7 linked regions of the Homo sapiens genome follow. The protein of the gene in region 6 purifies or fractionates together with the protein of the main gene of each other region. This does not show direct contact. Each region holds a gene or a part of one and is shown on either strand. Other genes may lie near its edges. The genes, in order: GPI, USP28, OTUD5, TRAP1, UBLCP1, MYLK4 and RAP1B.

Region 1 (4,149 bases), on a different chromosome or scaffold from region 6:
CACAGAGGAGGCTGCAGATGAGCACGAGTTTATTGGACTCTGGCCTCGCGCTGCTGCTTGATGAAGTTGATGAGCCCATTGGTAGAAGCGTCGTGAGAGGTCACTTGAGCACTGCCATCAAGCTCAGGCTCTATTTTCTTAGCCAGCTGCTTTCCCAGCTCCACTCTGCCAAGAAGGGAAGGGAAGGGAAGAGTGGTATGAGGAAGGCTCTAACGTTGCTACTGAAATCCCTGAGCCGACACAAAGGTATTCCCGGCCCTCCCCTAAGTGAGCAACTCACCCCCACTGGTCAAAGCTGTTGATGTCCCAGATGATGCCCTGAACGAAGATCTTGTGCTCATACATGGCTGCAGAAGTGACAGACAGGGCACATCAGGGCTCCACAAGCCCATTCCAACCTACCCCAAGCCAGGACCTTTCCCCTACTCACTCACCGACCAAGGCTCCAAGCATGAATGGTGTGAGCTTGGTGAACACAATAGAGTTGGTTGGGCGATTTCCTTCAAAGACCTGCAGAAAACACCAAGGAATGTCTCCAAGAGAGTCCTGATCCCTAAACCCCTTGAAGGGAAGCACACCCTGCCCCAGAGGCTGAGACGTGCAGGTCTGTGAGGACAGGCCCTCCCATTCTGTAGGACAAGCCAGGCACGCCCCAAGCCCCTGCCTGGTGCCATAGCTTCACACCTCCAACTCCAGCATGCACCCCAAAGCCAAATGCAGAAGTGCTGACCTTATGTGGCAGCAGCCTCTCAAGGTCCTCTGGACTCTTGCCCGCAGCCTGGAGCTCCTTTCGGGCCTCCTCCGTCGATTTTCCCCTCATCAGGGCCTCTGTCTGGGCCAAGAAGTTGGCCAGGAGGATCTGATGAGCGAGACATCAGTTATGCTTGAGAGCACTGTCTGGGCTTCAGGCAGAGGGACAAGACCGCCTGGTACTTCTCAGCAGGGGTCAGTCCCAGCCTGGGTCACTCGCTGTACAGCTCAGTTGGAGCGAGGGGGACACATCCGATGACACCACAAGGCAGGGAACAGTGATAACTGCTCTTTAAGAACTACACACCAGTGGCCAGGCGCGGTGGCTCACGCCTGTAATCCCGACACTTTGGGAGGCCGAGGCGGATGGACCACGAGGTCAGGAGCTCGAGACCAGCCTGACCAACATGGTGAAACCCGTCTCTACTAAAAATACCAAAAAAAAATTTAGCTGGGCATGGTGGCGCATGCCTGTCATCAGGCAGGAGGCTGAGGCAGGAGAATCACCTGAACCTGGGAGGCAGAGGGTGCAGTGAGCCAAGATCACGCCACTGCACTCCAGCCTGGGCGACAGACCTAGACTCCATCTCAAAAAAAAAAAAAGAACTACACACCACTTGCTAGGGGTCCTGCTCACAATTTTACCAACATCTATCTTTTAAGATCCTAAGAAGGTAGCTGGGCGTGGTGGTGTGCAACTGTAATTCCAGCTACTCCGGAGGCTTAAGCACGAGAATCACTTGAACCCAGGAGGCTGAGGTTGCAGTGAGTCAAGGTCACACTACTGCACTCCAGCCGGGGCAACAAAGTGAAACGGTGTCTCGAAAAAAAAATAATACTAAGATCCTAAGGAGGAAAGGCATCATCGCCCTGTTCTAGTAGAGCCTTGGGTTCCACAAGTCCACAGTGCTGGATCACAGAACTATAGACAGGAACAATCAGAATTCAATCCAGCTCACTGACTCCCAAGATTGTGCTACCGTAACCCTGTGCTGCTCTGCACACCTGAGACAAAGCACAGTAAATTCTCTGAAGGAGTTCGAGGGCAGCTTGGGCAACATACTGAGACTCCATCTCTACAAAAAATAAAAATAAAAAAATCAGCTGGGTGTGGTGGCGTGTGCCTGTTCCCAGCTACTCAGGAGGCTGAGGTAGGAGGATTGCTTGAGCCCAGGAGGGTGAGGCTGCAGAGAGCCTGATTGTGCCACTGCACCCCAGCCTGGGCAACAGAGCAAGACTCTGTCTCTTTAAAAAAAAAAAAAAACTTAGCCAGGCATGTTGTACATCTGTGGTCCCAGCTACTCAGGAGGCTGAGATAAAAGGATTGCTTGAGCCCAGGAGTTCAAGGCTGTAGTGAGCTATGATTGGGCCAGTGCACTCCAGCCTCAGCAACAGAGTGACATGCTATCTCTAAAATAAAATAAATAAATAAAATAAACAAAAGGGGAGATTTTCCTGGATTATCTAGTAGCCCCAATCTAATCACACTGGCCCTTAAAAGTAAAAGAGGGCCAGGCACGGTAGCTCATGCCTGTAATCCCAAAACTTTGGGAGGCCGAGGCAGGAGAATCACTTGAGCCCAGGAGTTGGAGACCAGCCTAGGCAACATAGTGAAATCTGGCCTCTACAAAAAGTTTAACAGTTAGCCAGGCTGTTAGTGCCTGTAAGTGCCTGTAAGTGCCTGTTAGTGCCTGTAAGTCTCAGCTATTTGAGGGGCCGAGGCAGGAAGACTGCTTGAGCCTGGGACGTTGAGAATACAGTGAACTGTGATCATGCCACTGTAAGTCCAGCCTAGACAACACAGCATGACACTGTCACTTAGGGAACAAAAGCAAAATGTAGAAGAGGAAGGTAAACAAGTCAGAGAGATGCAACAGAAGTGGCAAGACAGAATCAAAGCTTCAGAGAAGGATTTAACCTGCCATTGCTGGTTCTGCAGTGAAGAGGCCCACAAGCTAGAGGATGCAGGTGACCTCTGAGAATCTGAGAACGACCTTCAGCCCACAGCAAGGAAGCTGGACTTCAGTTCCACAACCATAGAGAAATGAATTCTGCCAACCACCTGACAAGCAGGTCAAAGGCTTTTCCCCTAAGGTCTCCAGAAAGAAACACAGTCCTGATGACACCTTGATTTCAGCCTGCAAGACTCTAAGCAGAGACACATCAGGGCCTGCTGGATATTTGAGCTTCAGAAACTCTTCAGATAGCCCAGGAAGGTGGCTCATGCCTATAATCCCAGCACTTAGGGAGGCCGAGGCAGGTAGATTACTTGAGGTCATGAGTTCAAGACCAGCCTGGCCAACATAGTGAAACCCCCCCTTTACCAAAACTACAAAAATTAGCTGGCCATGGTGGTGAGTGCCAGTAGTCCCAGCTACTTGGGAGGCTGAGGCATAAGAATCACTTGAGGCCGGGAGGGGAAGGTTGCAGTGAGCCAAGATCGTGCCACTGCACTCCAGCCTGGGCGACAGAGCAAGACTCTGTCCCCCCTCCCCACCCCACAAAAGAAGAGTGTTGTTTTAAGCCTCCATGTTTGTTATCATTTGTTACGGCAGGAATAGAAAACTAACGTGATTGCCAACCAATGCACCAGGTTTTCAGAGGTCTGGGTGCAATGTGAGCCAGACCCCCCAGATGGGGCCAGATGGGGGCTCTTACCTTGTGATGCAGACCCTTCCGTATGGGGTGCTGGGTCTGGACCGGGATGAGGAAGTCACAGGGTATCATCTTGGTGCCTGTGAAGGGCACTGTGGTCACCCACATGACCCCAGCCCATGGGAGCTAGCCATATGGCCTAGAGGAGGGCACTGACCTAAGTGAGATATCTCTTCTGGAAGATCCTTTCCCTCCCCCAACATCACCCTTCCCAGGCCACAGGGGCCTACCTTGGTGGATGAGCTGGTAAAAAGCATGCTGGCCATTGGTCCCTGGCTCCCCCCACACAATGGGGCCTGTCTGGTGGTCCACACGGGTTCCAGATTTGGTGATGTATTTCCCATTGGACTCCATGTCGCCCTGGAAAAGGAACAGAAACCCAGTTCTTGGCAAAATGAAAGAACATTTAAAAAGAAAGAAAGAGGCTGAGCGCAGTGGCTCAAGCCTGTAATTCCAGCACTTTGGGAGGCCAAGGCAGGCGGATCACCTGAGGTTGGAAGTTTGAGACCAGCCTGATTAACATGGAGAAACCCTGTCTCTACTAAAAATACAAAATTAGCCAGGTGTGATGGCGCATGCCTGTAATCCCAGCTGCTTGGGAGGCTGAGGCAGGAGAATCGCTTGAACCCGGGAGGCGGAGGTTGTGGTGAGCCGAGATCATGCCACTGCACTCCAGACTGGGCAACAAGAGCAAAACTCCAACTCAAAAAAAAAGAAAAAAAAAAAAAAAGGAAAAGAAAGGAA
Region 2 (4,290 bases), on a different chromosome or scaffold from region 6:
CACACTTCTTATATCAAAACTTAGTATTAATCCAAAGCTACGGTTATCATAACAGTGTAGTACTGGCATAAGGACAGATATATAGACCAACAGAATAGAACTGAGAATCCAGAAATAAACTCGTATCTGTGGTCAACTGATTTTCAACCAGAGTGCCAACACCATTTGATGGGGGAAAAATCATGTCTTCAACAAATGGTATTGGTACAACTGGATATCCACAGCAGAAGAATCACACTGGACCCCTACCTCACACAATACACAAAAATTCCTCAAAATGGATCAACAACCTAAATAAATAACTAAAACTATAAAATTCTTAGAACACAGAGATAAGTCTTCATGACCTTGGATTTGTCAATGGATTCTCAGCTATGACACCAAAAGCACAAGCAACAAAAGAAAAAAATAATAACACTTTTGAGCCAGGCATGGTGGTGTGTACCTGTAGTCCCAGCTACTTGGGACACTGAAGTGGGCTGATGTACTTTTCTGCATCAAAGGGCATTATCAAGAAAGTGAAAAGACAACCGGTATACAAATTCAAGAAATAAACACATACATCAAGAAATCCAACAAGAAATATACAGTGCTGGCCGGGCACGGTGGCTCATGCCTGTAATCCGAGCACTCCGGGAGGCCAATGTGGATCACCTAAGGTCAGGAGTTCAAGACCAGCCTGGCCAACATGGTGAAACCATCTCCACTAAAAATACAAATATTAGCCAGGTGTGTTGGCACGCGCCTGTAATCCCAGCTTCCTGGGAGGCTGAAGCAAGAGAATCACTTGAACCCAGGAGGCAGAGGTTGCAGTGAGCCGAGATCAGACCACTGCACTCCAGCCTAGGTGACAGAGCCAGACTCTGTCTTGGGGAAAAAAAAAGAAAAAAGAAATACACAGTGTACAAATTATCAAGAAAGTGAAAAGACAATGGGAGAAAATACTTTTAAATCATTTATCTGGTAAGAGTCTAGCATCTGGATGATATAAAAAACTCTCTTTGAACTCCCTTTAAGTCAACAACCAAAAAACGAGACAACCCAATTCAAAAATGGACAAAGAACTTAAAAAGATATTTCTCCAAAGAAGATATATAAATAGTCAATAAGTTTATGAAGACACTTAACATTAGCCATAACATTAACATGGCCAAATCAAAATCATGATGAGATGCCACTTCACACCCATTAGGATGACTGTTATCTAACAAAAACAAAAAATAACAAGTGTTTGATGAGAAAAGAGAAAAACTAGAACCCTTGTGTATTGCTGGTGGGAATATAAAACTTCCCCAGCAACCTTGGAAAACAGTCTGGCAGTTCCTCAAGAAGTTAAACATAGAATTACCATATGAGTCAACAATTCCTTCTAGGTATATACCCAAAAGAAGGGAAAACAGGTACTCAAATACAAGTATATGAAAATTCATAACAGAACTATTCATAATAACCAAAAGGTGTAAATAACTCAAATGTCCGTCAATGGAAGAATGGACAGGCAAAACATATCTATACATACAGTGGAATATTACTCAGTGATTAAAATGAAAAACTCATACATGCTACAACTTGAACAAATCTCAAAAACATTACAATAAACGACAGATGCCACACATAATAGGTCACATATTGCATGATCCATTTACATGAAATCTCTCTAATACGTAAATCTAGAGACAGAAAGTAGATTGGTATTGCCAGGGGTGGAGGGCATGGGGGAATAGGGAGTGACTGCTTAATGGTTACAAAGTTTTCTTTCAGGGTAATGAAAATGTTTTAGAACTAGACGGAATTGGTGATTGCACAATATTGTGAATATATTAAATGTCACTGAACTTGTACACTTGAACTTTTTTTTTTTGGAGACAGAGTTTTACTCTTGTCACTCAGGCTAGAGTGCAGTGGCATGATCTCCGCTCACTGCAACCGCTGCCTCCCGGGTTCAAGTGATTCTCCTGCCTCAGCCTCCCAAGTAGCTGGAATTACAGGTGCTCACCACCACATCTGGCTAATTTTTATATTTTTTAGTAGAGACGGGGCTTCACCATGTTGGCCAGGCTGGTCTTGAATTCCTGACCTCAGTGAGCCACCTCACCCAGCCCCACTTTAAAATAATTTTATGTTATATAAATTTTGCCTCAATTGAAAAAAAAAAAATCACCTGGGTGCAGTGGCACACACCTGTAGTTCCAGCTCTGCAGCAGGCTGAGGCAGAATGATCACTTGTGCCCAGGATTTTCAAACAGTAGTACACCACGATCATGCCTGTGAATAGCCACTGCACTCCAGCCTGAGCAACATAGCTAGACCCCAACTCTATGAAAAAACAAATGAATAAGGAAACCTGTATACACATCCCCACACAAAAGGAAAGAAGGAAGGGGGGAGGGAGGGAGGGAGGAAGGGAGGGAGGAAGAAAGGGAGGAAGGGAGGGAGGGAGGGGACACAAGAAAGTACTAACTTGGGCAAGAAGATTGAAAAAGAAAATGTTGTTTAGAAAATCTTCTTAGGGTTAAAGTGCCTACCAGCCATCATGTAGCATGCAGCTGGTACTTACTGAGGCAGATCTTTAGTTTGGTTTTGTGTGTCTGATATTTTGACCCCTGTTTTACGTAGAAAGCCTAGACGCTGGAAATAGTGCCATGCAGCCCAGACTCCAGCACACATCAGCCTCCTGGCAAATCTCAATCTTCCTCAGCATCAGTTTCCAGAATGGAAAATGAAGTACACCAAAAGCTTTGACAGCCCTGTATGACTATCAAAGGAAGTACTGCAAATAAATTGTTAGCAAAATGAAGAAATGCAATAGAAATGAAAAATACTGGGACTTGCCTGTTCAACTAAACTCCTCTAGAGTTTACAGTAAAAATACTGATATCCTGTGTTATAGTTTTGGTTTTATCACTTACTTGCTGTGTCACTTTGCAAATTCTACTTCCTGCTCATACTAAATTTTATTTCATAGAGTGCCTATGAGGGTTCAATGAAAAGTTATTAAAATTATTAAAGTGCTACATAGTCAAGTGGTAAGTCAGAAACTTTGGTTTTAGAAAGGCTTGTACTAAAGTCGGAGAAATGTTATGCTTCAAGTCAGAATGGCTTGAAGTCACAGCTCTGCTACTTATAATTCAATCATGGTCATAAGCTGCATTTCTCATCTGTAAGATAGAAGCAAACAGACTTCAGTTTAAAATCTCATACGAATAAAGAAAAAAAGAGATAGGTACCATGGTTCACGCCTGTAATCCCAAAACTTTGGGAGGCTCAGGCGGGAGGATCACTGGAGCGCGGGAGTTCAAAACCAGCCTGGGCAACATAAAGAGACCCCCCATCTCTACAAAAACTAAAAATATTAGCTAGGCATGGTGGCACATGTCTGTAGTTCCAGCTACTCTGTAGGCTGAGGTAGGAGAATTGCTTGGGCCCAGGAGGTTGAGGCTGCAGTGAGCCATGATAGAGCCACTGCACTACTCCAGCCTAGGTGACAGAGTAAGACCATGTCTCAAAAAAAAAAAAAAAAGACAAAAGAAAGAAAAGGAATAAATAAAATAAATCTCATATGAGGCCCTTATAAGGCATACTAACATCTGAGGTCAGGCACGGTGGCTCATGCCTGTAATCCCAGCACTTTTGGAGGCTGAGGCAGGATGACTTGGTTCATAAGTTTGAGACCAGCCTGGGCAACACAGAGAGACCCCATTGCTAAAAAAACTTTTAAAATTAACCACAGGCTGGGTTCGGTGGCTCACGCCTATAATCCCAGCACTTTGGGAGGCCAAGGCAGACGGATCACCGGAGGTCAGGTGTTCAAGACCAGCCTGGCCAACATGGTGAAACCCCGTCTCTACTAAAAATACAAAAATTAGGCGTGGTGGCATGTGCCTGTAATCCCAGCTACTTGGGAGGCAGAGGCAGAAGAATCAATAGAACCCGGAAGGCGGGGGTTACAGTGAGCTGATCTCACGCCACTGTACTCCATCCTGGGCAACAGACTGCGGTCCGTCTCAAAAAATAAAATAAAACAAAAGTAGCCAGGTGTGGTGGTGCATACCTGTGGTCCCAGCTACTCAAGTGTCTGAGGATTGCTTGGGTCTGGGTGGTCAAGGCTGCAGTGAGCCTTGACGGTGTCACCACACTCCAGCTTGGGTGACAGAGTGAAACCCTATCTCAAAAAACAAACAAGACATCTCAGTTTCCTCATCAGTAATAGGGTAATAGTTCACACCTTGCTGGGTTTTTGTAAATAAAAATGTATGGAAAAGTGCTTAGGGTGGTACATAGCATATGGCA
Region 3 (4,290 bases), on a different chromosome or scaffold from region 6:
GGTTGTATGACCTAGATAGGGTAGGGTCTTGGCTTTCTCTTGAGGCCTCAGTTTCCCCATTTATAAAACAATCAAAATTGATCTCAGATCCATCCCTCCTAGTGCTGATGTTCCAAGACCAAAAGGCCCAGAAGAGTGGGCCTAGCTAATGTTTCTGGGCCTCATCGTGGTAACATGCACAGCCCTTGCCACTCCCCCATGGCCCATGTAGAAACAACCATGTGGCCTTCACTCTGCCCACAGAAGCTAGCACCAGGACCCTGGTCAGGGTTAGAGGTTTCTGCTGAGTCAAAGCCACATGGAGGGAGGGAGCAAGGGAGAGATGCAGAGTCATGTTTCCAGGAGGAGGTTATCTGAGCATAACAGGGACAGGGTGGGCCACAGGATACCTCTGAGGCTCAGGTTCCCACCTCCACTCCACCCAAGCCTTCAATGATGCTCATGAATCCCCAATAAGAGGAGGTGGGAGAGAACTGAGCGCAAGCAATGGATATTGCTTAACTCAGGGGAACCAATGGCAGGCAGGCAGCTACCTGGGGAGTAGGCAATTCTCAGAAGTCTCTAAAGCAAATGGTAGGACCCTATAGGAAGATAATCCAGGGGAACAGAAGGCAGAAAGCCACCTGCCTCAAGACTCCCAACAACAGAGGGCCACGTGCTCCTACTTGGAGGAGGTAAGGTCCAGAGAAGTCAAGGAACACAGCCAAGGTCATCCAGCCAGTTGACAACCAAGCTAAGAAGCTAAGGATCCTAGGATCATAAAAAGAATGTGTCCTGGCCGGATGCGGTGGCTCATGCCTATAATCCCAACACTTTGGGAGGCCAAAGCGGGTGGATCACAAAGTCAGGAGTTTGAGACCAGCCTGACCAACATGGTGAAACCCCATCTCTGCTAAAAACACAAAAATTAACCAGGTGTGGTGGTGCACGCCTGTAATCCTAGCTACTCAGGAGGCTGAGGCAGAAGAATCACTTGAACCCGGGAGGCAGAGGTTGCAGTGAGCCGAGATCACGCCACTGCACATTCCAGCCTGGGCGACAGAGGGAGACTCCATCTCAAAAAAAAAAAAAAAAAAAAAAAAAAAAAAAAAAAAAAGAATGCGTGTCCTTTGGACACCTCTGGGTTCCCAGGCCAGCTCTGGCTAATGGCCCTGAGCATGTCATTTCCCTTTCTATGCTTCAATCTTTTCACCTGTCTCATGGGATAATGATCCAAGTTTTGCAGTGAGCCTGAAGCACCCAGCTGAATGCCTAGCACACAGCAGGGGTCAAGGAAACAGTGCCCTCTATGTTTGCAGCCCCCGCCCAACTCCAACTCTCTGCTCCACGTTCCTTCCACTATTCAACACATGGCAGGAAGTCAGCCTGTAGGGCTTCACACTACAGTCTAAGCTGACTGCCATCTGTCCCCATCCAGGCGAGGCTGGAAACGGGGGCAGCAAAAAGCCCAGGGACAAAGTCCCCTTCCCAGGCACATGTATTATGCACTCTGCACCAAGGAAACCTCCAGATAAGGTCTAGAGACCAAGGGCCATGTACTTCGGGGGAGAGGCCAGAGGACTTCTGAGGTTTTACAGAGAAAAGCCAAAGGCAGCCCAGTCAGGGGAAATGTGTAGCCATAGTGCCGATAAGGAAAGGCCTTCAACCTGCCCTGGTCAGCTCTTCCTGTAAGTAGAGGCCCCTTACTGAAGGCCCCAGTGGGAGGAAGGGTCGGGAGTATTTGGGGAGAACAGCTAGATACATATAGACACACACACACACACAAATACTGCTCTTGATACGAGTTACTACAACAAGCCAGGTCCTCACTAGCTAGCCCCAAGGGTCGGGGGTATTTGGGGAGAACAGCTAGCTAGATACACACACACATACACACACACACACACACACACACACACACACACACAGAGAACAGCTAGCTAGATACACACACACACACACACACACACACACACACACACACGGCTCTTGATATGAGTTACTACACAAGCCAGGTCCTCACTAGCCAGTCCCAAGGCTTACCCTCAATGACTGCCCAAGACTCAGATGCCCGCTGCATTCTCTAATCCTAACTCCACCAGAAGCCCTGCTTACCCCACATCTAGCCTGAGGTCTCAACACAGGGCCTAGCACCTAACAGGCCCCCACCTATTCTTTCTTTGCCTTTCTTTTGTCCAAGATGCCCCGAAACCCAGCTCTTCCTCTGGGAAACATCCCAGGGAAAACACAAACTTGAGCCAGAGGGGTAGGAGGGATAAGTTTTTTCCCAGTCCAATAGAGCCCATTGCCTGAGCCTCTTCTGCTTGGCAGAATAGAGAGGAGACCATTCACTCCACCCTTTCAACAAACACATGTGACTCTGAGGCACCAGTGAAAATGGCATCTGGGTTTTACAAATGCTACTGTTCCATGAGGGTCTACTATATGTGTCAGGCACTAAAGGGATTTACCAAAGCAACTTCATTAAATCGTTACAGCATTAGGGTCTTTTAGCCCCATTTTACAGATGAGGAAACAGCCTCAGGAAAGAAGAGCTGCTTGCCTAAGGTCATACCAAGAATCAGTTGTGCAGCCAGGGATGGAGCCTAAAACACCCCAGCCCACCAGTAGACATGGGGGGTACCCACAGACGGAGAGAATAGCAGACCAAGAAGGAACTCAAAGAGGCATTGAGAATCAACACCATTTCACAGACGGGAAGACCAAGGCCAAGTGTCACAGCAGTTATGAGTCAGGGCCAGAACTAGAAGGTAGGTCTTCTGACTCCCAGCTCAAAGCTCCTATCAGAGGGCACTTTTCCTTGGTAGATATCAGAGAACCACAGGGAGGATCAGGTCACATTCCCAGCTTCCCCTTCACCCTAGCACAGGACCTCACAACTACTTGTTGGGTCACAGATTCAGAGCCAAAATGGCCTCAAAGATCTAACTCAGACTGGATAACAGATGGTATTAAGGCATTATTAATTCTGTTAGGTGCAGTAATGGCATTTTGATTATGTTAAAAAGAAGAGAGTAAGTCTGTATCTGTCAGAGAAACATACAGAAATATTTATGAATGAAATGATCCAATGTCGGGGTTTTGCTTTAAAAATACTCTTCTTTCAGGGGAGTGAGAAAGAGTGGGCGGGATAGTGATGAAACAAGGCTGGCCACGTATTGACTATTTTGAAGCTGGATGATGGGTACATGAGGGTTCATCATTCTCTCTACTTTTATATAAGTTGAAAAAAAATTCTATGATATAAGAAATTTGTAAAGATCTAGTCTGATAGCCCCCATACACACAGATTGAGGAACAGAGACCCGCAACACACCAGAGATGGGATCTGGGTATAAACCTAGGGGTCATACAGCCCAGGGTGGCAGCAGTATGCTATGGTTAAGAGCATGGGCCTCAGACTAATCTAACCCAGACACTGAATCCCAACTCTACCACTTATTATTTCACTCCAGACAAGTCACCCACCATCTCTGAGCCACTTTTCTCATCTGACAAATGGAAGCAACAGTAGTCCCTACACTCACCTAGCTTAGAGGGGAATCAAAGAGGTTTCCTGTAGCACCTGACAATGTGTCCCAAAGGATATTATTTTCTTTATCATTCTTCTTGCTGTTATTATGCATATTAATCTTGCACCACTACAATGTCTCAAGACCCACGGCTAGAGGTCAGATACCAACTTGAGGCTGGAGCCTAGAGTCCCTAAAAGATTAGCTAGCTCTGCCTCAACCCTGTCTCAGGGGCTATTCCTGATAACTGGGACACAGCTTAGGGGCAGCCCTAGGCCCTTAAGGACTAAGGCAGAGACTCACCTACAGCCCGGAAGAGACAGGCGCCATCCTCCTTCATCTGCTTGATGATGAAGCCCTTCTTGTCTCGTAGGGCCTTTTCAAACCAATGCTCCTGCTGGAGGGAAGAGGTGGGGGTCAGCAACAGGGAAAACCTGTACTCCCTCCCCAGGGCCCCGACCTCAAGCTCCCGAGAGGCCTAGATCATTGACAGAGAGGACGCTGGCCAAGGTAAAGTTCTCAGCCCTGTTTGACCACTCCATGCATGTGAAGTAGGAGACTCTTTTAGGGAATTAGTTGCTGAGTGAAACTAAGACTTACTTCCAAAAGGGTCCTAGGTGCCCTGAGAACAGTGGCCCCATATGCCTTATGGCTTCTGTTGACCTTGCAGGGCCTGGCCCAGGGAGCCACACTGCCTCAGGCAGCCAGAGACTCAGACCCAGCAAGTGCCTGGGTGGAGAATGTGGCTCTACCTCAAGGAGTTTCATCTAGGAAAGGT
Region 4 (4,290 bases), on a different chromosome or scaffold from region 6:
TGGCCTCCCATAGTGCTGGGATTACAGGCATGAACCATCACTCCCGGCCCCTAGAATTAGTCTTTTCTGATGAGCATCTGGTGCTACCTGGCTGGGCCCTGTCTGGCCAATGTCATTGACACCACTTGAGTCCCTGGGACTGCTGGTGCACTCACCCGGCTCCCCAGGTGCTGGGGGCTTGGCACTTAGTGCGTCTCTCTCCTCAGGATACTGGTATCGGGATGACACAGGAAGAGCTGGTGTCCAACCTGGGGACGATTGCCAGATCGGGGTCAAAGGTAAGCGTGGGGCCCCCACACAGCCTCCCCCTTCCCCTCAGGGTGCAAGGATCCCTCCAGTAGGGGTGGCCCTGGGTGCCAGATTAAGTAAGAACGTTGTCAGTTGCATGCCACGCAGTGGGTACTGTGGGAACACCTCATGACATGACAGCCATCCCTCAGTATCTGGGGGTTGGTCCCTCAGTATCTAGGGGTTGGTTTCAGGACCCCCCTTGGATAGCAAAGTCTGCAGATGCTCCAGTCCCGGATTAAATTGGTGCCGTATATTGTAGACACATCTTCTTGTATGCTTTAGATGGTCTCTAGGTTAGTTATAATACCTGATAGAATGTAAATGCTAGATATAGATATAACATAGTTATGTTTTTTATACTACTTTTTATCATTGTGTTGTTTTTTATTTTTTTTCTGAGTATTTTCGATCCTTGGCTGGTTGAATCTGCAAATGTGGAACCCGTAGATAGGAGGACCAACTGTATTGGCTCACTGCAACCTCTGCCTCCCGGTTCAAGCAACTCTCCTGCCTCAGCCTCCCAAGTAGCTGGGATTACAGGCACGAGCCACCACGCCTGGCCAATTTTTTGTATCTTTAGTAGAGACGGGGTTTCACCATGTTGGCCGGGCTATCCTCCAGCCTCAGCCTCCTGAGGCGTGACTACAGGTGCACGTCACTATGCCCAGACCCACAGAGCAGTTCTGACCAGAACCATCAAACCCACAGACGCCGCATCCCAAGCCCGTTCTCATCACGGCGCTGTGTGAGAGGGGACTGATCCCTCTGACCCTCTCTGCGTCAAGCCCACAAGGCTCAGGGAATCGACTTTGCAGAAAAGTGCTGTGAGGCAGAGCAACACATTTGGACTCAGACCAACAGCCTGGGAACCTCCAGCGGTCGCCCTTTTCCAGCTCTGGGCAAAGCACTTACTTCAGTCTCCTCATCTGTAAGATGAAAACACTAGGTCGGGTGCGGTGGCTCACGCCTGTAACCCCAGTACTTTGGGAGGCCGAGGCAGGTGGATCACGAGGTCAGGAGATGGAGACCATCCTGGCTAACACGGTGAAACCCCGTCTCTACTAAAAATACAAAAATTAGCTGGGCGTGGTGGTGGTACCTGTCATCCCAGCTACTCGGGAGGCTGAGGCGGGAGAATCACTTGAACCCGGGAGGCAGAGGTTGCAGTGAGCTGAGATCACGCCACCGCGCTCCAGCCTGCGCGACAGAGCGACACTCCATCTCAAAAACAACAACAACAACAACAACAAACAAAAAACCCACCCTAACTGTGACTTGACCCCCACGTTACGTCTTTTGTTGTATTTCTCTCGAGGTTGGTCTGCTGTCCTGTGTAGCGGCCACCAGCTGCATGTGGCAGTTTAAATGTAAATGCATTCAAATTAAATAAAAGGGGACATTGTGCTCCTCAGCTGCACAGGCCACATTGCAGGTGCTCGGCAGGCTGTCGCATTGCACCTGGCAGAACGTTCCTGTTGTTGGAGAAAGTTCCATCGGACAACGTGGGCCAGGGCAGTGGGCGTGTGTATTTTACTTGACTTTGGCCTTAGGACCTTTGGCAGTATTATAGTAGAAAAATGAAGTGCTGTGCGGTGCTTACAGACGCATGCGCGTGATTTCTACTCTTTTTCCCACAAAGTGTAGAGTCCAGGAGACTTGAATATGGAAGCCAGTTTGGAGCCTCTCCTCACTCCTGGCCTTCCTATGGAAGGAGCTTATTCAAGGGAAAGAGCTTATTCAAGCTGCTCTTTCCCCACCCCCAGGTGTGACCCACAGGCCTCCACCTGTCTGGGACAGGCAGGACTGTGAGCTTTGGGAATCAAATGGAAAACACACTTGTCCCACTGCTGCCAGCTGGTTGTCCTAGGGCTAATGTGTCACCTCTCTGTGACTTAGCTCTTCACGTGTAGAATGGGGTGGAAAAGTACTCGGTGTGGCTGTTTTCAGGATGAAGGGGTCTTAGCGGTGCTCGCAGAAGAGCCACGGTGTTGGGAGTGTCTGCTCTCTGGAGGGGAGGCTGCCTCACTAACTGGCCTCTGCCCCACAGGCCTTCCTGGATGCTCTGCAGAACCAGGCTGAGGCCAGCAGCAAGATCATCGGCCAGTTTGGAGTGGGTTTCTACTCAGCTTTCATGGTGGCTGACAGAGTGGAGGTCTATTCCCGCTCGGCAGCCCCGGGGAGCCTGGGTTACCAGTGGCTTTCAGATGGGTGAGTGACGAATGTCGCCTGACAGGCAGCTCAAAGCTGAGCTGGAGCCCTTAGCATGGAGTTTGGAAAGGGATGGACTCAGAAAACGTACACAGGCATTTTCTGGGCTTTTTATATGAAATCTGACTCTCCCATTTTGGGGAGTTAGTGACTTTTGTGGCTCCAGGTGGCCTATGGCACCTGTCTGGTCCCATGTGGTTGGTCACCACCACTGCGCTCGGGAAGGCAGGTCCGGCCCGCGCTGAGCTCCTTTCTCAGTGGCTGAGCTGCAGGACTGGCCTGTCGCCTGGTGGACACTATGCAGCCTCCTGTGACCGACCTTCTGCAAGAGCTCATTCTGCTTCCTCCCAGCCCTGGCATTTCCTGGCTTTGTCTCCCCAGCCCACTTCTGCCTCTATAGGGTGAGGAGCCTGCTGGGGGCTTTTTTTTTTTTTTTTTCCTTTGGGACGGAGTTTTACTCTTGTTGCCTAGGCTGGAGTGCAATGGCACAATCTTGGCTCACTGCCACCTCCGCCTCCCAGGTTCAAGCAATTGGCCTGCCTCAGCCTCCTGAGTAGCTGGGACTACAGGCGCATGCCACCACGCCCAGCTAATTTTGTATTTTTAGTAGAGACAGGGTTTCTCCATGTTGGTCAGACTGGTCTCGAACCCCGACCTCAGGTGATCTGCCCGTCTTGGCCTCCCAAAGTGCTGGGATTATAGACGTGAGCCACCACGCCTGGCTCCGAGGGCTTTTTAGCAGGTGAGCCGCTTCCAGCCAGCCGAGGCGTCCTCCCTCCGTGATGCCATTTCTGCTCCACAGTGTGTGCACTGTGCTCAGCTTGACTCCCCACTCTCCCAAAACTAACATTCCTGTTTAATTCCATGGGAGCGGGGCTCAGAGTAAACTTAGGCCAAGGCATCAACATGGCCCTGCCGGGGGATTCCCCCCTCCTGTGCTTCGGAGATGGTTTTCTGCTCTTCTTAGGGGGCGCCTGTCCCCCTGGCCTTTGTTTTTGCCCCTGGGCATCTGGCACCCGATTTGGAGCTGGGCCAGTCCCCCACAGTGCCCCAGGCCTGCTTTTGGGGTAAGCCCAGAAGCTTCTTCGAAGCCCAGGGTCGGTGGAGGACCCCCGCCCCCCCGCCCCCCGCCCGAGGGAACCAGGAGAACTCTGCCGCCTGCGACAGGCTCATCGTTCCTGATGGGCATGTGATGGCCTGAGTGGTGCGCTGGGGTCAGAAATGGGGCATTTGAGGTGTGTTGTGTGTTGTTTGGGCTCTGCCTATGAAACCCTCGGGAACCGCTGGAGTCCCATGCAGGGTATGTCCCAGTGTCACATCCACCTGGCTTTTCCTTTCTTTGCCTGCCTTAGTTCTGGAGTGTTTGAAATCGCCGAAGCTTCGGGAGTTAGAACCGGGACAAAAATCATCATCCACCTGAAATCCGACTGCAAGGAGTTTTCCAGCGAGGCCCGGGTGCGAGGTGAGCGGGAGCCCGGGCCCAGGCTCACTCTGGGATCCATGTGTGGCCTGGAGGCCACCAGGTCAGCAGGCATTTTCCCTGGTTCTACCTGCACGTAGGGTGCACAGGCAGAGCCGTGAAGGGCCGAGCCGCTGCGGGACTGGGAGGGGGGCTGCCCGCCAGGGCTGCGTAGCATCGAGCTCCTGCTGGGACTGGGAGGAAGCTGGCCTGGCTGAGGCGGACCTCCTCCTCCTTCCTCTGCGTGGCCCTTGGCCTTTAGTGCACCTGGGGGTTTGGCGCAGTCCTGTCCCAGGATGTGGGCGTGGCCTTCCCTCTTTGTGTCCTGCTGG
Region 5 (4,290 bases), on a different chromosome or scaffold from region 6:
ACCAGCCTAGGCAACATGGCGAAACCTTGTCTCTACCAAAAATACAAAAATTAGCCAGGTGTGGTAACGTGCGCCTGTAGTCCCAGTTACTTGGGAGGCTGACATGTGAGGATCACTGGAGCAAGGGAAGTCGAGGCTGCAATGAGCTCTGATCATGCCACTGCACTCCAGCCTGGGTGACAGAGCAAGACCCTGTCAGAAAACCCCACCTGTTTCTATGCCGACGTGGGCAGATCTTTAATCTTAATCTTAACCTTTAATCTTTAACCTTAAAAGAGGTTTTCATGAAGTGTTATCTTGGGTAGATTAATTTTATAAAAAAGAGGTTTTCAATAAAAGACACACAAGGACAGCCTGTGGAGTGTCTAAATCTACCTCTGGAATTAGAATTTAGGGGATGGGGACATACGTATTTTTAGGAATTCCTTCAGTGGGTCTACTGAGTACAGTCTTTTAAAAACCCTACTGTAAAGTAACATAAAGAACTAGACATTTACAATAACATCTCTCCCTGCATCAAGAGATGAATGGAGCTCAAATGTTGGTTAGGAAAACAAAGTTTCTTTTAAACAAACATGAAACTAATGATTGTATTTTTTTTTTTAAAGTTAAACGTCTCCTCCAAAATTATTCCTTGACCATCATGGGATCACCTCCTTGCAAGAACAGGTAATAACCATTCGTTTCACAAACAATTAGGTTTACATCAACCACATTTCTTCTCAAGACTCAAGAATACATTTTTGTACCTTTACCTGGTGCAGTACATATTAAGAAAAGCACTTCTCTCCAAGCCTTAAACAGAAACCATTAAGGACAACATAACCACTTTTCTTCCAAGTCAACAGTTTTTATACTTATGGCAATTCACTACCTAGATTAGTATTCTTTCCCTAAAATATCCTCATTGTAAACAAAAACTCAAATCAACAGTCTGTAAGAAAGGTTTAAAAAATGTACTTTTAAGTTTTTCTCTCTTGTCTTTTAAAACTACCAAGGACCCAGCTAGTAGAAAAGTTTAGGACTGAGAATGAAAACATCTCAGTGTCAGGACTGCCACTTCGAATGGAGACTCCATGTGCAATAGTGCCATAGTATAGAGCTATCTTTTCCATTTTCATATTGCGCCAACATGTAATCAACTATGGGTACCAGAAACTTTTAAATTTCAAATTTCACTCTTACCAATTTTATACTGTTACCAGGATGAAATGTCACATAAGACTGCATGCAGTTGCATGCTAAGATTGTCACTGACCTAGGAACCAAGTCACTAGAGTCTAACCCAAATTCTGTCATTAGCCAGTTACATATACAATCTTGGGCAAGTCAGGAACTTCTTCAACCTCAGACTGTTTCCAAAGTTAAGAAGGTAGGCAAGAGATGACTGTGGTTCCTTCTAGCTCTGGCAATGTCTAATTCTAAGATCTGTACTTGCCGTCTAGGAATTTTCAAAAACGTCTTTAGTTTCAGTTTAAAAAGAAAAAACAAAGTACCCTTACTGCCATTTCTCAAGCTAACCAGAATGTTTAAAATGCCAAGATTTGTATACCTAAAAAAATAACTAATGATTTCACTTTGGATGCTAAAAGTCAATGTTGGGAAGCCCATGTTGCTCCCACAGAGCTAATTAAAAATAAAACACTTGGGCCGGGCGCAGTGGCTCATGCCTGTAATCCCAGCACTTGTGGGAGGTCGAGGTGGGCAGATCACGAGGACAGGAGCCTGAGATCAGCCTGGTCAACATGGTGAAACCCTGTCTCTACTAAAAATACAAAAATTAGCTGGGTGTGGTGGTGCGTGCCTGTAATCCTAGCTACTCAGGAGGCTGAGGCAGGAGAATCACTTGAACCCAGGAGGTGGAGATTGCAGCGAGCCGAGATCGCACCACCACACTCTAGCCTGGGCGACAGAGTGAGATCCCGTCTCAAAAATAAATAAATAAATAAACAAACAAATACTTGGATGAACTAGCTAACTATGGAGACATCAATGCAAAAAAGACAAAGTTCAATTTCTATATGAATTATTCTTAAACTTTTCTCGCCTATGACATAAGAATACAGTACTTCCAAAAATATATGAAATTCAACAGTGCTTACTACAAAAGTTCTACCACACAGCCCAGATTACATGAGCACATAACAAGTAAAAGTATGTCTTACCTTTAGTCCATTCTGTGGGTTCATTAGAAAATTTCTCCCTATGTCATCAAACATAATGGTGTTTTTCTTGCTGTAAAACTCCGAAAACTTTCCCCATATAACACCAAGAGGCTTTACCTTAGAATAAAAGTTTACATTTAACTCAAATTTTATCAATATTTCATCCTGTCTTAAAAGCAGGAATACTGCAAACTGCCCTGCAGAACAATGCCAAAGTGTTCCTTTCCCCCTGTAAGACAGGTGTGAGCTAATCATTAAATGCAACCCACTTTAAAGCACAATGCATTTTGCAATATTAAAACTTCTGAAAGGTTTGTTCATGTCCAACTGAACTAAACCCATTATAAAACTTTCCATAATTTTAACGTGAAGATTTTGGGTAAAATAAATAAATTATTTAATTTTTTAAAAATCCAAAGTAATTGTTTAGATGTCTGCTATGCAGTCACATGACTTCCTTGGTTAACACATTCCTTCTCAGAGCTTGGGAGTCACATGGAGTCTGCTTTCAAAACTAGAACACCCTAGTCAAAAAAAAACTGTATTTGGCTTTTTCAATTAATAATTTGAATATTTTATAGAGGAAAAACTCGTTTTGTCTTTAACTCAGTGGCACAGGTGCATAATTTCTAGGGAATTTGATTGCTTAACTTCGGAAGCACCATATTTTACAAATTCTTACTCTTATTTCTGAATTCTTAAACTGAAGCTTCAAATAAATAATTTCTTATATAGTCTTACCTGTTGGTATTTGTGTAAAGTCTCTGTAAGACCACACAGGAAATAACACTGATTGTGGCTAGGTACCAGGTGAAAGATGACTTTTCATTATGTACTTTACTATTTTTTTAGTCATGCAAATGTATTACACATTCAGAAAATTTTTTAAATTTCTAGAAAATTACTTTTGCTGAAGACAGAAGTCTTACGGTATTATGAGAACAGAATGTAATAATAAATATATGAGATTAAGTGGTAAGAAATAAATAGTGATAAAAGTTGTAACTTAAAAATTTTTTTCCTCCTATAATTTAATTTGGAGAAAGCTTTTTCCTTCCTATTGTCTTGCCTATTACAAAAAATGTTAATGAAATATTTTAATTTACTAAAATTTTACTTTCCTGATTTTTTTTTGCTACTGATCTTGTTTACTACCGAAATAGAAACCGCCCCCTACTCCCCCCACGAAATGAAGACAAATATATAAGAATTAATACAATAAGCCATATTTTGTGGATTTTTAGCTAACAAAAGCCTCAAGAAATATGACAACAGAGGTCATTTTTTATGACATCCAGAATAAAAATCCTACATCCTCTTAAAAAGTGCTGTCATTTGTTAATTAGGTCAAGCACCTATGTTCCCCAAAACACAAACTACTTTGCTCTCAATTAGAAAAGTAATATTGCTAACTACAGAAAAAAAACATGAAAATACTGAAAAGCATAAAGGAAAATTTTAAATCAATAATCTAGTCAGTACCAAGGGCAACAACTCAATATTCTGATACATTGACTCCAGGCATTTTTATAAACAAGAGCAGCCTCAGAGAGTTGACAGGTTCTTTGTTAAATTAAGGGTAATCCTGAACCAAACAAAGGTTAAGAACTATTTTCTAACGGCTTACAACAGTGTTCTCTAAAATACTTCTTTCACTTAAATGTGTCATGAAAATTTCTAAATCATTACATATCCTACTACATCAAATGACGAGCTACAGTCCCTTATATGGGTAGCAGTAATTTATATATCCAATGCCCTATTGCTGGATATTGAGGATTATTTTTATTCCTTTAATTTTTCACTGTTATAAAACATGTTTAACATTTCCCTAAGTAATTTTTAATGTTAAGATTTTGTAAATGTATTATTTTACTTTAGTATATAGTAAGTTATCTTTTTCTCGATACATGCAGTATTTCCTTTATAGAACAAGTCCCCATGCCCTTAAATCATTCTATTTATGGTTTTGATAATTTTAATACTGTCTCCCCTAAGGTTTCCTCGTATCCTAAGTTCTCCTCAATTCCTATTAGTTTGGGTGCTTTTATTTTACTTTATTTTGTTGAGACAGAATCTTGCTCTGTCACCCAGGCTGGAGTGCAGTGGCTCAATCTTAGCTCAC
Region 6 (4,290 bases):
TCGTAAATCAAAATGTTTGACCAAAAAACAATAAAAATTGACAATACAACAACAAAAATAATACAAATTTTTAAAAAATACAGTATAACAACTGTATATGTGGCATTTACAGTTTATCAGGTATTGTAAGTAGTCTAGAGATTATTTAAAGTACTCGGGGGGATAGGCATAAGTTATATGCAAAAGACTATGCCATTTTATGTCAGGAACTTGAGTGTCCTCCGGTTTTGGTATTTGCAGGGATCCTGGGACCAATCCCTCTCCGATACCAAGTAATGACTGTACTCGGTTTCTAACTAACCAGTCCTTATGTTTTTATAAAGGTGAGTTTAAATGGAAGCTTCTTAGCCCTAATCATCACCAGTTGTTGACATGACCTTTGTATTAGTGAATATGTTGAAAGTAAGATGTAGCTCAAAAACCACTTTCCTCCAGGTTGCCCTGGCTAATATTTAAGCTTGATTTTTGACAAACAGCGTAGATACAAAGCTAGATCTACTTGGTCCCACTACTTCTTAGCAATAAAATCCCATATGGAGATTTGTAACCCCAAGTGTTTCCCTTCTAGAACTGATGTGATTGTGTGATCCGCGCGAATCAGAGTCTGCGGGGGCGAGCTTGGTTCTGGTCCCGCTACAGCAGGACGGAGCTACTGAGGCACGGTCACGGTCATGAGTGCCCTTGGGGAGGTCAGGGAGGGGGCGGAGGGGATACGTACTACTCCATGACCAGGACAATGTCGTTCTTAGACTCGAAGGCATCGTACAGCTGGATGAGGTTCGCGTGGTCCAGCTGGTTCATGACGCTGATCTCGTTCTTCACCTCCTCCTGAGAAGCAGGAAACAGTGCATTAGTGTGGTCAAGATGGGGCGGGGAGGGAGGGGACCACCTCCCACAGGCTGTACCTTGTCCTTCATGCCTCTGGTCTTGATGATTTTGGCTGCCAGCTTCAGACCTGTGGCCGTCTCCTCACACTTGTGAACCTGGCCGAAACGCCCTCTGCCAAAAAGAGGAAGCGGCGTAGCATGAGGCCCTGTGGTCAGCTGCCGAGTGGACAGCGCACAGTGGCCCCAGTATTTCTCCTGCTGAGTCTGGATGAGCAGCCCTCTGAGGAGTTCTTTCAGTAAACTTCTAGAGCAGTATTTGTCAACATGTGGTGTGTGGATCACTTGCATCAGAATCACCTGGGAGCTGTTAAGAAAGCAGGTCTCGGCCGGGCACGGTGGCTCACACCTGTAATCCCAGCACTTTGGGAGGCCGAGGCGGGAGGATCACGAGGTCAGGACCAGTCTGGCCAACATAGTGAAACCCCATCTCTGCTAAAAATACAAATACAAAAAATTAGCCAGATGTGATGGCATGTGTCTGTAGTCCCAGCTACTCGGGAGGCTGAGGCAGGAGAACGGCGTGAACCCAGGAGGCGGAGGTTGCAGTGGGCCGAGATCGCGCCATTGCACTCCAGCCTGGGCGACAGTGCAAGAATCCATCTCAAAAAAAAAAAAAAAGAAGAAAGAAAGAAAGAAAAAAAAAAAGAATCCAGGATTCTGGGCCCTACCCCAGACCTCCTGAGGCAGGAATCCAGGGGTAGGCCCCAGAATCTGCATTTCAGCACATTTCTTGGGTGATTCATATGCACCCTCACATTTGAGAACCACCTTTACAGACAATGCAGAATCCTTCTGAATACATATGAATGTTATGAGCTGGGCTTTGCCAGCATATGAACAAGAGAGCCCACCTTCAGATATATAAAATTATTTTTGGAAACTGCATATGTAACAATACTGCATATACATCCATATAGTCAAGACTGCATATTGCCAAGTCACCTATGAGCTTGAATATAAACACAAGACAGCTTCTTACCTACGTAATCACATACAGATGTGCACACTTGTGAGCAGTTTTAAATTTAATTTGCTTAGTTTGATTTCTTATTTAGTAAAATAAGCTAGAACACGTGTCCCTGCTCTGCAATGGTGGATGTCACAGTAGGGAGTGAGGAACAGCTTCCCTAGCAACACAGTGAACCCGAGGCAAGCCCTATGACAAGGCAGAGGACTTCAGCGATGAAAGTCATGGCAACGCTGGGCAGATGCAGGGGCACTGGCGGCCGCTGCATCCTACTGTGGGGCTGCACACCCAGCACAGAGGCAGATGAATCTTGGAGAATGACACAGGATTACCATAAACGTAGCCACGGCGTGACTTCAATTCCAACCTCTGCTCCAGATAGAGTCTCTATGGGAACACACGGACACAGCCCCAGCCACCTCTTAATTGGTTGTTATGGAAATGGTTTCTCCCCTTCACTAGCAATGGCCGCAGAACCTCCTGAGCCAGCAGTGGTGCCCATCACTGTCTGACTTCCCGGCTCCCTCAACCTTCTGACTCTTTCCCCTGATTTATTGTGCAAGGGCCCTGAAGGTTGAGGCCAACTCCCAGGATTCATGCTGGTTCAACACAGTGATAACCTTATGCTCATTGAACATGGCAAGCAGGGATGATGGATACCCTCAAGGCCACAGGGCAGGAGACGAACTCCCAGGAAAATTCAGGGGCCTGCCCCTGTGGGCAGGGTTTTTGGGATCCAGTGGTCCTTGGCATGTTGCAATATTTCTGCCAAAAGTAAAAGATAAGTTGCTACATCTTGAACCTGCTACCACTTAAAAGGAGGTGCAGCACTTGGTGATGTCTGCATTTTGAAGGCATCCACGCACATTTGATCATGCTCCTCTCACTTATTTGCTGAGTGAATTACGGCTGCCAATTTTGGTGAAGCCCATAACGAGAGCTGACGGGCAGCTGGTCTAGACTGCAGTACCAAAGAGAAGATCCCATGGTGCCCAAACAGACAGAAAGGAAGTTTCAAAGGAGCAATTGACAAACCTTGACCAGAAAAACAGCACAAACCCTGGGAATTCTTTCAAAGCTTCTTCTGCAAATAACTATTCTCGGTTAGAGAAATAGTTGCTGGCTTGCCACTGATGTCCCTGAAGGCCCAAATACCTCAGGCTTCCATGGAGCCAGTTCATGCTGTGGAATTCCTGTTTCTCCCTCAGCCCATCCCCGCAGTCTCATGGGGCATTCTATGAGATCAGCCAGATCAGGAAGGGAAAGTCCAGGTGGTTCCATTCGGCACAGGGCAAAGAAATACGGAGTGGGAAGAGGAGGAAGGGACTTCACAAATATCAAGGACTCCCTGAAGACCACTTGCAGACGCCTGAACTGCAGTAGCGATGCGTGCTTTCCTTGTGTTGGTGAGTACATTTTGTATGTATACGTGCAGATGTTCTGCTTTCCTCTTCCTATTTTACACAGACATGCCGATGGCAGCAAACGTTATAATTTAGACTTTGAGTTACAAGATATCACGGGGGGTTGTGAAAGAAGTAAACGAAGAAGAACACCCTCTCCCCACCCCCAGCAGGAAGCGGGTCCCTGATGGACTTTAATTTTCCTTCTGGTTTTTTTTCTTTTCTTTTTTTTTCTTTTTTTTTGAGACAGAGTCTTACTCTGTCACCAGGCTGGAGTGTAGGGGCCTGATCTCGGCTCACTGCAGCCTCCAACTCCCTGGTTCAAGCGATTCTCCTGCCTCAGCCTCCCGAGTAGCTGGGATTACAGGCATGCGCCACCACGCCCAGCTAATTTTTGTATTTTTAATAGAGACGGGGTTTCACCATGTTGGCCAGGATGGTCTCGAACTCCTGACCTCAAGTGATCTGCCCGCCTCAGTTTCCCAAAGTGCTGGGATTACAGGCGTGAGCCACCGCGCAAGGCCTTTAATCTTCCTTCTTTAGGGAGAATGTGTGTTTAAATGTCCCTAAAATAAGTTATTTGCTGAGCAAAGTAATCAATTGAAATGAATAATAGTAATTAATATAGTAACAACATAAATGAAAAACCAGCAGCAATGACAGAAAGACCTAATACAGGCCACAAAAACTACACGCTGTTGACTCATTTCTATCTTCTGTCTCCTGGAGGCTGCACTATGGCTTTGGACAGCTGGTCAACCTTCTGGTGACTCACAATGGGTTTTTCTTTCTTTTAGACATTACAACATGGGAAGTAAAGCAGATAATAAATGTGGAGTTTAGTCACCACATTAACCTTTCTGGCATCAGTGACAATTTTCAGAAATGGTTACTGTTTCTTAAAATGTTTGTTTCTAATGTTTCTAGTTCTCAGGTCAAGACAGGCAGACATTTACGAAGTCATTTGCACGCTCTCTTCTTTTGTTGAGAGAATATTAACATTCAGCCTTACTCACCCTCCTAGGATTTCTGT
Region 7 (4,290 bases), on a different chromosome or scaffold from region 6:
GCGTGTGTCACCATACCCAGCTAATTTTTGTGTTTTTAGTAGAAACAGGGTTTCGCCATGTTGGCCAGGCTGGTCTCCAACTCCTGACCTCAGGTGATCCACCCGCCTCGGCCTCCCAAAGTGCTGGGATTACAGGCGTGAGCCACTGTGCCTGGCCTTGATTGACTTTTTTAATACAAGACTATGAGAAACTAAAAATTCTATTTTGGGAGCCTTCCGTCCATTATGATAAAATTTTAAGGTTTTTTCCCCCCATCTCTCATAACAGGATCATAGCTTGTTTTCTCAAAAGTTTATGTAAAAGTGTCTTATTTATGTCTACATTGACTAGGTTGTGTTCATTTTACTTAACATATGAGAGTTTTCTTTCTCTCTTTTCTTCCCTTTGGAGTTATCGTTTGCATCTCCATGAAAAGAGAAGGCAGTGGAGATAATTGACATCAAAGTTAATACTTATGTTTATGTTACAGATTAAATTGTTAAGGCTGTAAATTTTATTATACATTATTTAATATTTTTTGTGGCATATGAAAAGTAATTCTTAGATTTGACTCTTAGAATTCTTTTGATTTGAATTCATATAGCATATTTACTTATTTATTTTTACTCTCACAAATGTATTTTTAGGTTCCAATGATTCTTGTTGGTAATAAGTGTGACTTGGAAGATGAAAGAGTTGTAGGGAAGGAACAAGGTCAAAATCTAGCAAGACAATGGAACAACTGTGCATTCTTAGAATCTTCTGCAAAATCAAAAATAAATGTTAATGAGGTATGGTCAAATATACTTAAAATGGGTCTTCATTTGAAGTACAACATTGAAGATGAATGGAAAATGTCTTAACCCCAAGTTAATATGTACTCAGGGTAATATGTTGATGTTACAGGCAAAAAAAAAAAACCCTCATGTTAAATGTATCTATGTAGTAAATAAACAATACTATTTCAGTCTCTATTAAATACTTGTACATTGATATTTACCATGAAAAAGGAAGACTGGACAGAAAATACATGGATAGGGAAGACAGATTAAGACTTCAGGTATATGAAGGATGTTATATGAAAAATAGAGTAAAATTCCGAAAAGTATGCATGGTTCTTGAAAGGCTCCAAGTCATGTTGTAGAGCAAAAACTTACAGTTTTTAAAAGGATTTTTTCTTTGTGTGATGGTAAATGTTCTAATTGAACTAAGTTAAGATCTCTGCAGCTCCTTCAACTAAGTATTTTAAGGAGCACAATATTAACACTCCCCAAAAATTTGAGCTTGGCAGTTATAACACCTGATTTTATTCTCATTCCTTAGCTGAACAATTCTGGGCATTAATTTATATCCATGGAAATTTCTGTTTTTTCAATTTACTTTTTTCATTGGGGGGGATAGGTGTTCCTCCTGTAAATTAAAACAAATTATTGTATTTGCAGATCTTTTATGACCTAGTGCGGCAAATTAACAGAAAAACTCCAGTGCCTGGGAAGGCTCGCAAAAAGTCATCATGTCAGCTGCTTTAATATACTAAATGCATTGTAGCTCTGAGCCAGGTATGTTCACTTATCTTTCCTCTAACTTTTAATCACTCAACCTTATTAAGGGCACTCTGTCATGAAAGCAAGTATAGACTTCTTTTTGTTGGTTCTGAAAAATAAATGGTTTATTTTTATAAGATATCCATGAGTTAGTATGCTATCTTATTAATTATTTACTTATCATCATGAGTAAAGTATTTCACATAAGTATTCTTTTTTTGAGATGGAGTTTCACTCTGTCACCCAGGCTGGAGTGCAGTGGCGCAATATCAGCTCCCTGCAACCTCCGCCTCCCAGGTTCAAGCAATGCTTCTGCCTCAGCCTCCCGAGTAGCTGGGATTACAGGCACGTGCCACCACGCCCGGCTAGTTTTTTTGTATTTTTAGTAGAGATGGTGTTTCACCATTGTTGGCCAGGATGGTCTCAATCTCTTGACCTCGTGATCTGCCCACCTCGGCCTCCCAAAGTGCTGAGATTACAGGCGTGAGCCACCACTCCCAGCCAACCCCGTCCCTAATTTAAAACACACACACACACACACACACACACACACACACACACACACACACACGTGCGCGCGTGCGCGTGAGCCACCGCTCCCAGCCAACCGTCCCTAATTTAAAACACACACACACACACACACCCCTGACATGTTCATCATGTGCCAGTCACACACACACACACACCCCTGACATGTTCATCATGTGCCACTTTTTTTTTTTTCCTTCAACTTTTAAGTTCCAGGATACATGTGCAGGATGTGCAGGTTTGTTACATAGGTAAAGGTGTACCATGGGGTTTGCTGCACAGATCTTGCATCGGTACCTGGCACATAGTTAACACTCAACTATTAGCTGCTGCTGTTTGCCAATGATAATGGTTTCCTCTTCAGCTGTCATTAAACTGTTTATTGTTAAACTGTTAATTTATTCTTAAGAACCTTTGACATTCCTGACTCTTATTTCTTCCTATGTTAATTGACTCAGTGCTGCCATAGCACTTTGATTCTGCATCTTTTCAGAGTTTTTATTCCTGCCTTCCATCTAGGGCTTTCTGTTTAGTGGTATATCCTCTCATTCTAATATCCTATAATTCCTGACCACATGCCCATTCTTAGCAGCACACATGTGCTTGAGCTCACACACTTCCATCTGTCCTTTTTAATTTGCAACAGTCTGCCAGGATTTAGAAAACTTGATTGCAAACCTCATTCAGACTCAGAATGAGGACCTAAAGTTCTAGGCATTTGTGAAAATTATTTCAACAGCCACATATGTATTAACAACTCTTCTGGAGCTTGTAACAAGTCTGATCACCAGAAAAATATAATAGGGAACATTTTTTTAGCCGAGGCATGTATGCAGAAAACTATTCAAAGTACATATTTAACAATTCTAAGTTTACTTTTTAAAATCTTTAATTACATGTGATTTTAGTGTAATACCACCTTTTTCTGACATCAGTCTTAATAGAATGTTTAAATATGGAATTAGAAATTATATAACGTGATTGTAAATCTGTAAAACACCATCATGAAATAAATTCTATTTGTCTGCTCTGAACGAGCTTTTTAGCCACTTTCATTGAAAGAGTGAGGAAGAACTTGATTATCTGATACTAGAAACCTTGGTTAGATGTGCATTCTATACTTATGATCTAATTCTAGGAGTACATTACGATTGTGTAAACACAGGATCACCCAGTTTGTTAATATTGCTATCTGACTTTTCAATCCTAATTCTAATAAGGTTGACTTGACTAACAATTTTAATGTGATTTTTTTCCTTTTTAATCCTTGGAAGGTAATGCACAAAAATTTGCACAAAGGTACTTTCCCTTTCTGTTCCTAAGATTTTCATTTAACTGACTTTCAAGAGGGCAGCAGAATAGACTTCATCTTTTTGGAATGAAAAGGTCTGCCGTGAATTGTGGTATGTTGCCACTAATGTAATGCCTAGAACAAGAGCCTAGATTATATTCATTTCTAACACTTTTAAGACTGTTTTCTTAACTGTTTGCTTTTGGGTCTTTACTTTTTCTAGCCCATGTTTTTAATTAATTTTTTTCCTTTTGACAGGTCTGAAGAACTGTTGCCCAATTCAACAGTGCCAGCATTCCAACTTTGTTAAACCTACCAACATCTTAAATGGACTTTCCTGTGGTGGTACCCTTTAAGAGGCGGATGAAAGCTACTATATCAGTTTGCACATTCTAATCACTTTCCAGTATCACAAGAGAGATTTTTACTTATATAATAGTCCTAGAGTTTGCAGCTGGTAAAACCAGAGGCTACATCCAGTATTACTGCTAAGAGACATTCTTCATCCACCAATGTTGTACATGTATGAAAATGGTGTACTGTATACTTTAACATGCCCCATACTTTGTATTGGAGAGTACAATAATGTAAATCCTAAAAGCACCACTATTTTAGCATAATAAAAGAAAGTCCAAAGAGCTCCTATATAGACTACTCCAGATAACTTCGCTTCTTTGATACTTGTAGCTTATTGTAATTTTTTTTAAGAAATTCAAGGTCATTATTATTGTACAAAATAAGCGCTTTGATTAACACAGCTATATAGTTTTTTTAATTTTTAAAAAACCTGTGGAGACGGTGATCTTGTCTTTAAAACATGATAGTCCTTTCAGTATAATGTCTTAGATTAAAGACGTTGCCTTTAATATCTGTTGGGAAGGAAATGTCCAGACTTTTCAAATCTCTTATTATATGTTTCCTTTTTTTGTTTACATAGGGAACAATGT

Evidence for each region.
Region 1: the proteins of MYLK4 (region 6) and GPI purify together in Homo sapiens (affinity purification with mass spectrometry; one large-scale study listed by BioGRID and IntAct). This does not show direct contact.
Region 2: the proteins of MYLK4 (region 6) and USP28 purify together in Homo sapiens (affinity purification with mass spectrometry, with the first as the bait; one large-scale study listed by BioGRID). This does not show direct contact.
Region 3: the proteins of MYLK4 (region 6) and OTUD5 purify together in Homo sapiens (affinity purification with mass spectrometry, with the first as the bait; one large-scale study listed by BioGRID). This does not show direct contact.
Region 4: the proteins of MYLK4 (region 6) and TRAP1 purify together in Homo sapiens (affinity purification with mass spectrometry; one large-scale study listed by BioGRID and IntAct). This does not show direct contact.
Region 5: the proteins of MYLK4 (region 6) and UBLCP1 purify together in Homo sapiens (affinity purification with mass spectrometry; one large-scale study listed by BioGRID and IntAct). This does not show direct contact.
Region 7: the proteins of MYLK4 (region 6) and RAP1B purify together in Homo sapiens (affinity purification with mass spectrometry; one large-scale study listed by BioGRID and IntAct). This does not show direct contact.

The regions. Positions count from the first base shown.
Region 1 is NC_000019.10:34,395,917-34,400,065, reverse strand, and holds part of GPI (glucose-6-phosphate isomerase), read right to left. Parts: intron 3,766-4,149; coding exon 3,636-3,765; intron 3,486-3,635; coding exon 3,409-3,485; intron 860-3,408; coding exon 731-859; intron 511-730; coding exon 435-510; intron 348-434; coding exon 281-347; intron 166-280; coding exon 30-165; 3' UTR 1-29. UniProt on the Homo sapiens protein: In the cytoplasm, catalyzes the conversion of glucose-6-phosphate to fructose-6-phosphate, the second step in glycolysis, and the reverse reaction during gluconeogenesis.
Region 2 is NC_000011.10:113,865,422-113,869,711, forward strand, and holds part of USP28 (ubiquitin carboxyl-terminal hydrolase 28), read right to left. Parts: intron 1-4,290. UniProt on the Homo sapiens protein: Deubiquitinase involved in DNA damage response checkpoint and MYC proto-oncogene stability. Involved in DNA damage induced apoptosis by specifically deubiquitinating proteins of the DNA damage pathway such as CLSPN.
Region 3 is NC_000023.11:48,940,375-48,944,664, forward strand, and holds part of OTUD5 (OTU domain-containing protein 5), read right to left. Parts: intron 3,910-4,290; coding exon 3,816-3,909; intron 1-3,815. UniProt on the Homo sapiens protein: Deubiquitinating enzyme that functions as a negative regulator of the innate immune system. Has peptidase activity towards 'Lys-48'- and 'Lys-63'-linked polyubiquitin chains. Can also cleave 'Lys-11'-linked ubiquitin chains (in vitro).
Region 4 is NC_000016.10:3,675,707-3,679,996, reverse strand, and holds part of TRAP1 (heat shock protein 75 kDa, mitochondrial isoform 1 precursor), read left to right. Parts: exon of another isoform or gene 1-206; coding exon 207-278; exon of another isoform or gene 279-2,338; coding exon 2,339-2,499; exon of another isoform or gene 2,500-3,851; coding exon 3,852-3,961; exon of another isoform or gene 3,962-4,290.
Region 5 is NC_000005.10:159,276,230-159,280,519, reverse strand, and holds part of UBLCP1 (ubiquitin-like domain-containing CTD phosphatase 1), read right to left. Parts: intron 2,283-4,290; coding exon 2,166-2,282; intron 1-2,165. UniProt on the Homo sapiens protein: Dephosphorylates 26S nuclear proteasomes, thereby decreasing their proteolytic activity. Recruited to the 19S regulatory particle of the 26S proteasome through its interaction with 19S component PSMD2/RPN1.
Region 6 is NC_000006.12:2,684,578-2,688,867, forward strand, and holds part of MYLK4 (myosin light chain kinase family member 4), read right to left. Parts: coding exon 4,274-4,290; intron 1,000-4,273; coding exon 906-999; intron 829-905; coding exon 719-828; intron 1-718.
Region 7 is NC_000012.12:68,655,679-68,659,968, forward strand, and holds part of RAP1B (ras-related protein Rap-1b isoform 1 precursor), read left to right. Parts: intron 1-627; coding exon 628-771; intron 772-1,422; coding exon 1,423-1,509; 3' UTR 1,510-1,539; intron 1,540-3,601; 3' UTR 3,602-4,290. UniProt on the Homo sapiens protein: GTP-binding protein that possesses intrinsic GTPase activity. Contributes to the polarizing activity of KRIT1 and CDH5 in the establishment and maintenance of correct endothelial cell polarity and vascular lumen.